Regions from separate parts of the Homo sapiens genome. Here all the other regions are linked to region 4. Evidence: fine-mapped expression QTL. A gene starts in region 4. Each other region holds a variant in brackets. All regions are shown on one strand. Distances are from middle to middle. Region 1 overlaps KIF3C (kinesin family member 3C). Region 2 overlaps RAB10 (RAB10, member RAS oncogene family). Region 3 has its middle 32 kb from the start of GAREM2. Region 4 holds the start of KIF3C (kinesin family member 3C).

What was found.
Region 1: its variant is fine-mapped to the expression of KIF3C in whole blood (TOPMed, PIP above 0.99).
Region 2: its variant is fine-mapped to the expression of KIF3C in whole blood (TOPMed, PIP 0.96).
Region 3: its variant is fine-mapped to the expression of KIF3C in whole blood (TOPMed, PIP 0.98).

What each region holds. Positions count from the first base shown.
Region 1 is chr2:25,927,409-25,930,092 of GRCh38, reverse strand. It overlaps KIF3C (kinesin family member 3C), which reads left to right. Exons shown (of 8, transcript NM_002254.8): 6 at 30-138; 7 at 616-788; 8 at 1,022-2,684. The coding sequence ends at 1,115. Among named protein-coding and RNA genes, the nearest start is that of ASXL2, 50 kb to the right of the region's middle. The variant T/A (reference allele first, on the strand shown) is at 1,319.
Region 2 is chr2:26,112,742-26,115,425 of GRCh38, reverse strand. All of the region lies in intron 3 of RAB10 (RAB10, member RAS oncogene family), which reads right to left. Among named protein-coding and RNA genes, the nearest start is that of GAREM2, 59 kb to the left of the region's middle. The variant A/T (reference allele first, on the strand shown) is at 1,141.
Region 3 is chr2:26,139,918-26,142,601 of GRCh38, reverse strand. It overlaps the pseudogene EMP2P1. Among named protein-coding and RNA genes, the nearest start is that of GAREM2, 32 kb to the left of the region's middle. The variant C/T (reference allele first, on the strand shown) is at 1,003.
Region 4 is chr2:25,981,415-25,984,098 of GRCh38, reverse strand. It overlaps KIF3C (kinesin family member 3C), which reads left to right and starts at 1,602. Exons shown (of 8, transcript NM_002254.8): 1 at 1,602-2,684. The coding sequence starts at 2,182. RefSeq lists silencers at 1,354-1,523, 1,664-1,823 and enhancers at 1,813-2,322, 2,323-2,684.

The DNA.
Region 1 (2,684 bases), 54 kb after region 4:
TCCTTTCTAATATAGCCTCTTTCCTACAGCAGTAGCAGCCAGATGAAGAAGCGGCCAACATCTGCAGTGGGCTACAAGAGGCCTATCAGCCAGTATGCTCGGGTTGCCATGGCAATGGGGTCCCACCCCAGGTACAGGGTAAGAAGCGGAGAGGGGAGAAAGAGCCTACGGGAGGGAGGCCGGGCGAGGTGTCTCACACCTGTAATCCCAGCACTGTGGGAGGCCGAGGCAGGTGGATCACCTGAGGTCAGGAGTTCGAGACCAGCCTGGTTAACATGGTGAACCCCTGTCTCTACTAAAAATACAAAAATTAGCCAGGCGTGGTGATGGGTGCCTATAGTCCCAGCTACTTGGGAGGCTGAGGCAGGAGAATTGCTTGAACCTGGGAGGTGGAGGTTGCAGTGAGCCGAGATTGCACCACTGCACTCCAGCCTGGGCAACAGAGTGAGACTCCATCTCAGAAGAAAAAAAAAAAAGAGCCTATGGGAGGGGATGCTCACAGCCTCTGCTTCCCCTAACCACCTCATCAGCCCTGCTACACCCAAGACTGGCTGAGTCCCTAGAAGGCACAGTGACTGGGCACTGTTCAAGCCTGGCATGATATTCCCACCACAGGCTGAAAACATAATGTTTCTGGAGTTGGATGTGTCCCCTCCAGCTGTCTTTGAGATGGAATTCTCTCACGACCAAGAACAAGACCCTCGTGCGCTACACATGGAGAGGCTCATGCGATTGGACAGCTTTCTGGAAAGACCTTCCACGTCTAAAGTCCGAAAGTCCAGATCCTGGTCAGTACCTCCATGGTCCCAGGCAGCACTGGACCCAGGAGGCAGGGGAACTGCAGGCGCTGGGTGATGCTAAAGAGGGTTTTGCTGGTACCCGAAGGGCAGGAAGGGCAAGGGGTGACTGGGGATGTCAGAAGGATTCCTGCAGCAACAGGATGGGGCAAAGGAGAGGACCCACTTTCCTGTTTCCTGTATTTCCCTAACCTCCCCTTTCGCCTGCGTCATCTCCCCTGCAGGTGCCAGAGTCCTCAGCGGCCTCCACCTTCCACCACACATGCCTCCCTGGCCTCTGCTTCTCTGCGCCCTGCAACAGTGGCGGACCATGAGTGACAACCATCACGTCAGGCTGCCCATCCAATAGACTCCTGGGATGGGGCAGCCAACCCTGGCTCATCTCATCTGCCGCTTGGTGCGTGTGCGTGTGCGTGCATGTGCGTGTGCGTGTGTGCAGGGGTGAGAATCTGGCAGATGGTGCCTCTGCCTGCTCTTCTTCGCCTCCTTTATTTAATTCATGTTATTTATTCGCGGAGCTC[T/A]GTTCGTGTTGGGGAGATGCCCTCGCCTGAGCCGTCTGGGCCTACCGTGGTCACTGCGTAGCCTCTTTTTCTTCTGACTTGAGAGCTCCCCCAGTCAGATCTCAGGCTTGTCCCCCTGTCAGCTGCCTCCAGAAGGGAAGGTAGCCAGTGCCTGAGAAGACAGTCCCTTTTCTACCCACCGCACTCCATAACCTCCATCTTCTCCCACACTGATGGCGAGCAGCCCCTGAGCACTTTCTGGGACTGGGAGACTGCTTGGTGTTCCCTGAGGACAAGAGACATCCTGACAGTGTTGGGCATCTGCTCCCCGTGGACACAGCCCCACTCTCCACTTTCTGAGCCTCAGACAACCTCATTCAGCCTCTTGGGCTCCTTTTCAAGGACATTAATAACCTCACCAACATAGCTCATGCCCTTCAGCTTTGACAAGAACTCACAGCTTCCCAAACTCTGCTTTCTGCCCACCTTGGATGGGAACTGTGGACCAAGCAATTACCATCGCCTTGGAACCTGCAGGAAATGGAACAGCAATTGAGACAACTTGAACAGTCATCAACGGAAGTCCCTCCACTGGATTCCTTTGTTTCTGTCCCCTCCGAGGAGTCATTTTGGTCGACAGGCTCTCAAGGCAACTCCCCATTTTCAAGAGGCTGCTCCTGCCTGCTTCGATCATTTCTCCCTGCAGCTGCCTAGACCCCGTTCACAGTGGGAGGAGTCAATGTCATTCTACCCCTCGCTAAACGAAGATATTAACATCTATTGCTTTTTCCCTTCATCTGTCACAGGAAACAGAAGCCCAGGCACAATCTTTTCCAGCTTTGCCTGTTACCCCTGTTTCTGAATTGCATCTTTAAGGTATTATTTTGTTGAAAATAGATCCTTTATTCACTAGTTACGCAAATTGGTTCCTAGGGGGATACTCCTTACCTTCCTTTGTGATGGCCCAAAATGTCTCTAGGTATCTCAAGTGATAAGTAAATTTCTACAAAAAAAAATGGTTAATGTTCATTGACTGGCTTTTTAAGTGTATATTTTGGAGGACGGGTGAAGAGGTCATAACGAAAGCAAGCGAGTGAATTAGGATTTCAAAGTGCCCTAATAGTGTGAGTCTCCAGTTCCTAGAATATGAAGAGTGCTGTCGTTGGGGTGAAACCATGAGACTGACAGATCTGCCTGAAATGGGGGGTGTGGGAGGTGGTGGCGGGGGTTATTCTCTTTCCTTCAGGAAATGAACCCTTCTTACATCATTCAAGTTCTGCTCTGAGGATCAAGCTTGGGTCTGATTTAACTCAGCGACACTGTCATTTCTGCTTCATTACTGGACTAGAGGGTTGAGCCACCCACTTGCCATTTGCTCCTGTCCTTC
Region 2 (2,684 bases), 130 kb before region 4:
CCTTCATGCCTTTTAATGGCTGAGTGATGTTCCCTTATATGAATATACACATTTTATTTATCCATTCATCAGTTGATGGATGTTTGGGTTGTTTCTGGTTTTTTTTTTTGGCTATTGTGAACAATGCTGCTATAAATACTTGTGTACACCTTTTGTGGATATATATTGTTAATTCTCTTGGGTAAATACCTAAGAGTAGAACTGCTGGTCATAAGGTAACTGTATGTTTAACCATTTTGAGAACTGCCAAAATATCTTCCAAACCAGCTGCATCTTTCTACAATTCTACCAGCAATATATGAGGGTTACAATTTCTCTCCATCTTTGTGAACGCTTGTTAGAGTCTGTCCTCTTTTCTTCCATTCTGTGGGTTGGCTTTTTACTTTCTAAATGGTAGAACCTTCAAAGCACAAAGGTTTTAAATTTGATGTAGCCCAATTTATCCATTTCTTTTCTTTTGCCACTTCATGGCTTTAGATCTTACATGTAGGTCCATGATCCTTTTTGGTTTTTTTTCTTTTTTTGAGACAGAGTCTCACTCTGTTGCCCAGGCTGGAGTGTAGTAATGCAATCATGGTTCACTGCAGCCTCGACCTCCTGGGCTCAAGTGATCCCACCTCAGCCTCCCAGATAGCTGGAACTACAAGTGCATACCACCATACCCGACTAATTTTTTTTTTTTTTTTTTGTATATTTTTGTAGAGATGGGGTTTCACCATGTTGCCCAGGCTGGTCTCAAACTCCTGGGCTCCAGCGACCCACCCACCTTGGCCTCCCAAAATGTTGGGATTACAGGTGTGGGTCACCATACCCAACCTTTGTGGTCCATTTTGAGTTAACTTTTCTGTATGGTATGAAGTAGGTGTCTAACTTTCATTCTTCCACACAAGGATAGCCAGTTTTCCCAGCACCATTTGTTGGAAAGACTATTCTTTTGCCCATTGAATTGTCTAGCCATCTTGTTAAAAGTCAACTGACCATATATGTAAGAGTTTATTTTTAGACTCTCAATACTATTCAATCAATCTTTATGACTATCCTTATGTCAGTATCACAGTGTTTTGATTATTGTGGCTTTGCGGTTAAGTTTTAAAACCAGAAAGTATAAATCTTACAACTGTGTACTTCCTTTTCAAGATT[A/T]TTTTGGCTACTCTGGGTCCCTTGCCTTTCTATATTAGTTTTAGGGTCAATTTGTCAATTTCTACGGGGGGGAATTTTTAAAAAAGCAATTGGGATTTTGATAGGGATTGCACTAAATCTGTAGATCACTTTGGGTAGTAATGCCATCTTAATATTGTCTTCCAATTCACAAATAATGGCTATCTAATTATTTAGATCTTTAATTTCTTTCAACAATATTTTGTGGTTTTCTGTGTTCAAGTCTTACACTCTTTTGGTTAAATTTACTCCTAAGTATTTTTTGCCTTTTGATATTATTACAAATGGAAATTTATTCTCAATGTAATTTTTAGGTTATTGCTAGTGTACAGAAATAAAGCTGATTTTTATATGTTGATCTCATTTCTTGTAACCTTGCTGAACTTGTTTATTAGTTCTAAGAGTTTTCTGGGTATATGTTTGTGGGTTCTTAAGGATTTTCTATATAAAATATTCTACCATTTATAAATAGTTGTTTCACTCTGGATGGCTTTTTTTCTTTCTTTCTTTTTTTTTTTTTTTTTAGCTCTGGCTGGAACTCAGCATAATGTTGAACAGAAGTGGCCAGAGTAGATATTCTTGCCATGCTCTTGATCTTAGGGGACAGGTACAATAATAGCTGTGGTATTTTTATAGATGTCACTTACAGGATTAAGGAAGTTCTTTGCTATTCCTAGTTTGTTGACTTTTTTTTGAGACAGAGTCTTGCTCTGTCGCCCAGGCTGGAGCACAATGGCACGATCTTGGCTTACTGCAACCTCCACCTCCTGGGCTCAAGCGATTCTCCTGCCTCAGCCTCCCGAGTAGCTGGGGTTACAGGTGTTTGCCATCACACCTGGCTGATTTTTGTATTTTTAGTAGAGACGAGGTTTCACCATGTTGGCCAGGCTGGTCTCGAACTCCTGACCTCAGGTGATCCACTTGCCTCGGCCTCCCAAAGTGCTGGGATTTACGGGTGTGAGCCACTGCGTTTGGCTGACTGTTTTAATCATAAAAGAATGTTGGATTTTGTCAAATGTTTTTTCTGTGTGAACTGAGATAACTGTATGGTTTTGTCGTCTATTAATATGGTGTATTACATTGACAGGTTCTGACCCTTGCATTCCTGGGTAAGTTCCTCTTGATCATGTTATATAATCCTTTAATACACCAGAGAAACAAGATTTCCTCTTTCTTTCTTTTTGAGACGGAGTTGCACTCTGCTGCCCAGGATGGAGTGCAGTGGTGCAATCTTGGCTCACTGCAACCTCCTCCGCCTCCTGGGTTCAAGTGATTCTCCTGCCTTGGCCTCCTGAGTAGCTGAGACTACAGGTGCCCACCATCATGCCCGGCTAATTTTTTGTGTTTTTCATAGAGACAGGGTTTCACCATGTCGACCAGACTGGTTTCAAACTCCTGACCTCAGGTGATCCGCCTGCCTCAGCCTCCCAAAGTGCTGGGATTACAGGCATGAGCCACTGCGCCTGGCCAAGATTTTCTTTTTAAATAACTTCTTTTCTTTTTCAGAGACAGAGTCTCACTCTGTC
Region 3 (2,684 bases), 160 kb before region 4:
CTAGGAACCCTCTGCTAAGAATATCCCTATCCTGGCCGGGCACAGTGGCTCCCGCCTGTAATCCCAGCACTTTGGGAGGCTGAGTGGGAGGCCGATTACCTGAGGTCAGGAGTTCGAGACCAGTCCGGGCAACATGGTGAAATGTCATCGCTGCTAAAAATATAAAAATTAGCCAGGCGTGGTGGTGGGTGCCTGTAATCCCAGCTACTGGGGAGGCTGAGGCATGAGAATCACTTGAAACTGGGAGGCAGAAGTTGCAGTGAGCCGAGATCATGCCATTGCACTCCAGCCTGGGTGACAGGGCGAGACTCTGTCTCAAAATAGTAATAATAATAATATCCCTATCCTGACTTCTAGGATAATGATTTTCTTAATTTACATTAGTATATTATGCTGTACTTTCCTAAACGCACTATAGTTCAGCTTTGCCTGCTTTTCTCTCTCTACCTATTGAAATTGAATTTTGAAGAGGCTGAAGCAATTGTCCTGTAAAGTTTACGGTCTGGATTTTGTTGATTGATTTAGTATAACATGTTCTGTGCTCGTTTTTCCTATAAATTAGCAGTTGGCTCTAAACTACAGATCTGATCTTTTGATCAGGCATGGCCTCCTCATAAGCATGGTGCTCTTGGTCAGAAGGAACATAAATGTCTGTTTTGTTGGATCTTTTTGTGATGTTAGTAGCCATCGACCGTTGCCTAGATCCATGAATTCATCAGAGGTTGTGAGATAAGACTCTATTACTTCTTCTTTTTGGTTGTTGTTGGAATACTTCTGTACAGAGAAACTTCATCTTGTTGACTATTCAGTTACGCAGTGGTATAGTTCATATAAGGAAGGTAAGATTAATTATTGATTCTTTTACTTACCACCAGAGGAGTTGTAGGGGGAGGGAAGAGCTATTTCCCTGGCATTCTCCAATAGTGACCAATTAGGGGTGTGTGCATGTGTGTTTGGTATCATCATAAACTCATGGATTTACACATATTCAACAGGTTCAGA[C/T]TGTCCCATCTTTAGCCAGAGTGAGCATCTTCAAGTTAACTCCCAAGCCATCTTGATAACATCCCTAGATTTTGAGTTTGAGATCTGATGTAATCAGCTATTTCAGGCTCATTTTACCCCTTTCCTGACACAAACTTGGAATCTGCCATTTCAAGAAGCCCTGGTTTCAGAGGAGGGAGGGTGCACAGTCTCAGCCCAGAGCTTCAAAACAGCCCGGCGGCCTTGCCTCGCACCCCAGCCGGTCCATCGGTCCAGCAGCCTGCGTAGCGGCCAGCGCCGGCACATCCCGCTCTGGGCTTTAAACGTGACCCCTCGCCTCGCCCTGCCCTATGAAAATGTTGGTGCTTCTTACTTTCACCGTCGCCTTCCACATCACCTCTGCGGCCTTGCTGTTCATCGCCACCATCGACAATGCCTGGTGGGTAGGAAATGAGTTTTTTGCAGATGTCTGGAGAATATGTACCAAAAACACGAAGTGTACAGTAATCAATGACAGCTTTAAAGAGTACTCCATGGGCCGGGCGCGGTGGCTCACCCCTGTAATCCCAGCACTTTGGGAGGCCGAGGCATGCGGATTATGAGGTCAGGAGATAGAGACCAGCCTAGCCAACATAATGAAACTCCGTCTCTACTAAAAATACAAAAATTAGCCGGGCGTGGTGGTGCGTGCCTGTAATCCCAGCTACTCAGGAGGCTTGAGGCAGGAGAATCGCTTGAACCAGGGATTTGGAGGTTGCATTGAGCCAAGATTGCGCCACAGCACTCCAGCCTGGCGACAGAGCGAGACTCCGTCTCAAAAAAAAGAAAAAAAAAAAAGAGTACCCCACTCCGCGGCCGGGCATGGTAGCTCACGCCTTGTAATCCTAGCACTTTGGTAGGCTGAGGCGGGGGGTTCACCTGAGGTCGGGAGTTTGAGACCAGCCTCACCAACATGGAGAAACCCCATCTCTACTAAAAATACAAAATTAGTCGGGTGTGGTGGCACACACCTGTAGTCCCAGCTACTCGGGAGGCTGAGGCAGGAGAATCGCTTGAACCCGAGAGGCGGAGGTTGCAGTGAGCCGAGATCGCGCCACTGCACTCCAGCCTGGGCAACAAGAGCGAAACTCGTCTCAAAAAAAAAAAAAAAAAAAAAAAAAAAAAAAAAGTACACCATGCTACAATGTCATATCTGTGCCTCATGATTGCAGCCTCCATTTATACAGACAGGCGCGATGAAACAACGGATTTCTATTACCTGACCAAAGAAGGCAGCTATGGCTACTCCTACATCCTGGCGTGGGTGGCCTTCGCCTTCACCTTCATCAGCAGCATGATGTACCTGATAACTGAGGAAGCCGAATAGAGTTCCAGAGCTGGGTTGCTTTTGCTGCAGTATAAAATCCACATTCAGACAACCATTTTGTATATAATCTTTTTTTTTTTTAGGTTTTTCTAGCAAATGAATTGTTTCCTTTAAAAGTAAAAAAGAAAAAAAAAAAAAGCCCTGTTTCTTAAAGTGGGAGAAGGGACTTTCTTAGAGCCTACTGTAGTACTGTAATAACCTTCAGTTTATTGTGGGTCTCTCTTGCTCACTTGCTATTGGTAGTGTGCACACCCCTTCCAGTTCCAGCCACTGCTCTCAAGCTGGCTTGCAGCCTTCAAGTACCTGCTGGCTATCTGGAGCTCCCAGACCAATCAGA
Region 4 (2,684 bases):
GTCCTCTAGAGGATAACATGCTTGGAAATGTTTTGTGGAAAGACTCTTCTGGTGCCTCTGTGAAGAAGGGTCTCCAGGTTTCAGATAACAGCACCTCTCAATCTGGTTCTCATATGGAGAGTAAAGACAGACAGCTTGGGCTCAGTCCACAGACTCAACTGCCCTCTGCAGAGTGGACCATGGATAGGACTCTGGCTTGGTCCTTGGCCTTGTGGAATTACACTTTATTTGTATCCTACAGGAAAAAAAAAAAAGATTAAGACTCCCATAGAGGAACACCAAGCACAGACATGGTCTATCCAGGATACTCAAGGAAGCAGGAGCTGTCAGGCAATCCAAGCCAGGGCAGGACTTCTCATGGTACAGTACTTCATGATTCATTATTTCATTTGAGCCTCCCAACCATTCCATGAAGTAGTTGTTAATTATTTCTTTCCCGCCTCGAATTTTTAAAAAAATAAATGAGGAAACTAAGGCTGGAGCAAGGGGAGTGACTGCTCAAAGCCACTCCATTGGATGGCCATCAGAACTGGAACTTCAATCCAGGTTTTGTCTTAGGTAAATTCTGTGCCTCTTTCACTATAGAAAAAAAAAAATTGCTAAGGGAAGGCTTCGTGGAGGAGGAGGTGCTTGAACTGCCCAAGTGGCAGGGCACTAAGTGCCGAAGGGTGACCAGGCCTCTGGGCAAAAGCACAAAGATGCTGCACAGCAAAGCCAGTTAAAGAAACAAAACACGGTTCCGGGAATGTGCACTGCTTGAGGACAGGAAGGACCCAGATCCTAGAATGGGGCCTGGGGCTCAGCAGGCGCTGGATAACTGAAGAAATGGCTGTCTGGAACACAGATTTTTCTATAGAGGAGTAGTGGCGGTGAGGCTGCGAAGGCGGAAGATGGAGAGGCTTTCACACAAGGAAGGCGGTGGAGGAGGAGCGAGGGGGCTCCCGGGTGCTTGTGCGGACATAAGGTGCGAGAGAATCAGCTGGAAGGTGGGCTCCAGCAGAGAGAAGAGGAAGGCCAGAAGTAGACCGGGACAGGGGGAGGAAAGGACAGAGTCAAGGAACATTTAGGAGTTCGGTTCCCGGAGGCCTGGCGACACCCTGACGGGGAGGGGTGACGCGCACCCATTTGCAGGCAGAAAGGCAGGAGCAGGGGGGTGTCCGAGGATGGTGGCTCGGAGGGACCAGGCATAGGTGGTGCAAGCTCAGCAGTCACTCAAGGGGTGGCATGCGGATGAGGGAGGCGCCTCCCGGACTGGGGGACCGGGAAAGGCATTAGCAACCTGCCAGAACCCGGTTAACAAAGGCAGGACTACAATTCCCGGCATGCTCGGGCTCGGTGGGGTGACGGCGGGCGGTGGCTGCGCTGCACCCGACTGGTGGGCGCAGGACCTGGGTCGGCACCGGAGCCTGTCATCCCGGAGCGGTCGGCGGGGGTGCAGAGACGGCGATGCGCCCCTGTCCCCCGCACCCGGGCCGCTCCGGGCTCGCGCCTCCCGCCCCGCGGCCCCGCCCCCTGCCCCACCCCAGTCGGGAGGCTTAGCTGGGGCCGCAGCGCGGCGGCAACATCACTCTCGCTGCCGCTGCTCCGCCCCATCCCCTTCTGTTTTTCTCTCTCATTCTCCAGTGGCGGCGGCGGGGAAGGCGGAGGCAGAGGCAGCAGCAGCCGCGCTGGCTGCAATGAATGATCCCCCAGCTTGGGGGGAGGACTCCAGGTGAGCCTCTGCCCTCGGGAGGCCCGGGACCCCCGGCCGCCCACGACCGGCAGCCCACGCTATGGATCCCTAGAGGAAGGAGGAGAAGACAGCTCGCCGCCCACCCCCATCCCATTTTCCTCTTCCTTTATCTCATTGTTGCCGAAGCTGTTTACGGCAGCGCTCCCTCTGCTCCTGCATGGGGCGGGCTCCGGGCACGGCTGCTCGGCAGGCGCTGCTCCCGCGGCGACTGGGGGATTCTGCCTAATTCACCTCCCAGCCGGTGCAGAGAGGACCGGAGAGCGGTGGAGGCCCGGACTGCAGCAGCGTTGGGGCCACCTCCCAGCGTCCCCACCCTAGGAGGCTGCATGCGGATTGAAGAGCTGCGCCTGGGGGCTGGGCCGGCCCCGCTGATCCCGACCTAGCGAGCAGGATAGCAGGACCGCCCAGGCTGCGGAGGGGCTCGGGGGCAGGAAGGTCAGAGCAGCAAGATGGCCAGTAAGACCAAGGCCAGCGAGGCCCTCAAGGTGGTGGCCCGGTGCCGCCCCCTCAGCAGGAAGGAGGAGGCTGCTGGTCACGAGCAGATCCTGACCATGGACGTGAAACTGGGCCAGGTGACCCTGCGGAACCCCCGCGCCGCCCCGGGGGAGCTGCCCAAGACCTTCACCTTTGACGCCGTGTATGATGCCAGCTCCAAGCAGGCCGACCTGTATGACGAAACCGTGAGGCCCCTGATAGACTCCGTGCTCCAGGGTTTCAATGGCACGGTGTTTGCCTATGGCCAGACGGGCACTGGCAAGACCTATACCATGCAGGGGACCTGGGTGGAGCCCGAGCTGCGCGGGGTCATCCCGAATGCCTTTGAGCACATCTTCACCCACATCTCCCGCTCCCAGAACCAACAGTACCTGGTCCGGGCCTCCTATTTGGAGATCTACCAGGAAGAGATTCGAGACCTGCTCTCCAAGGAGCCGGGCAAGAGGCTAGAGCTGAA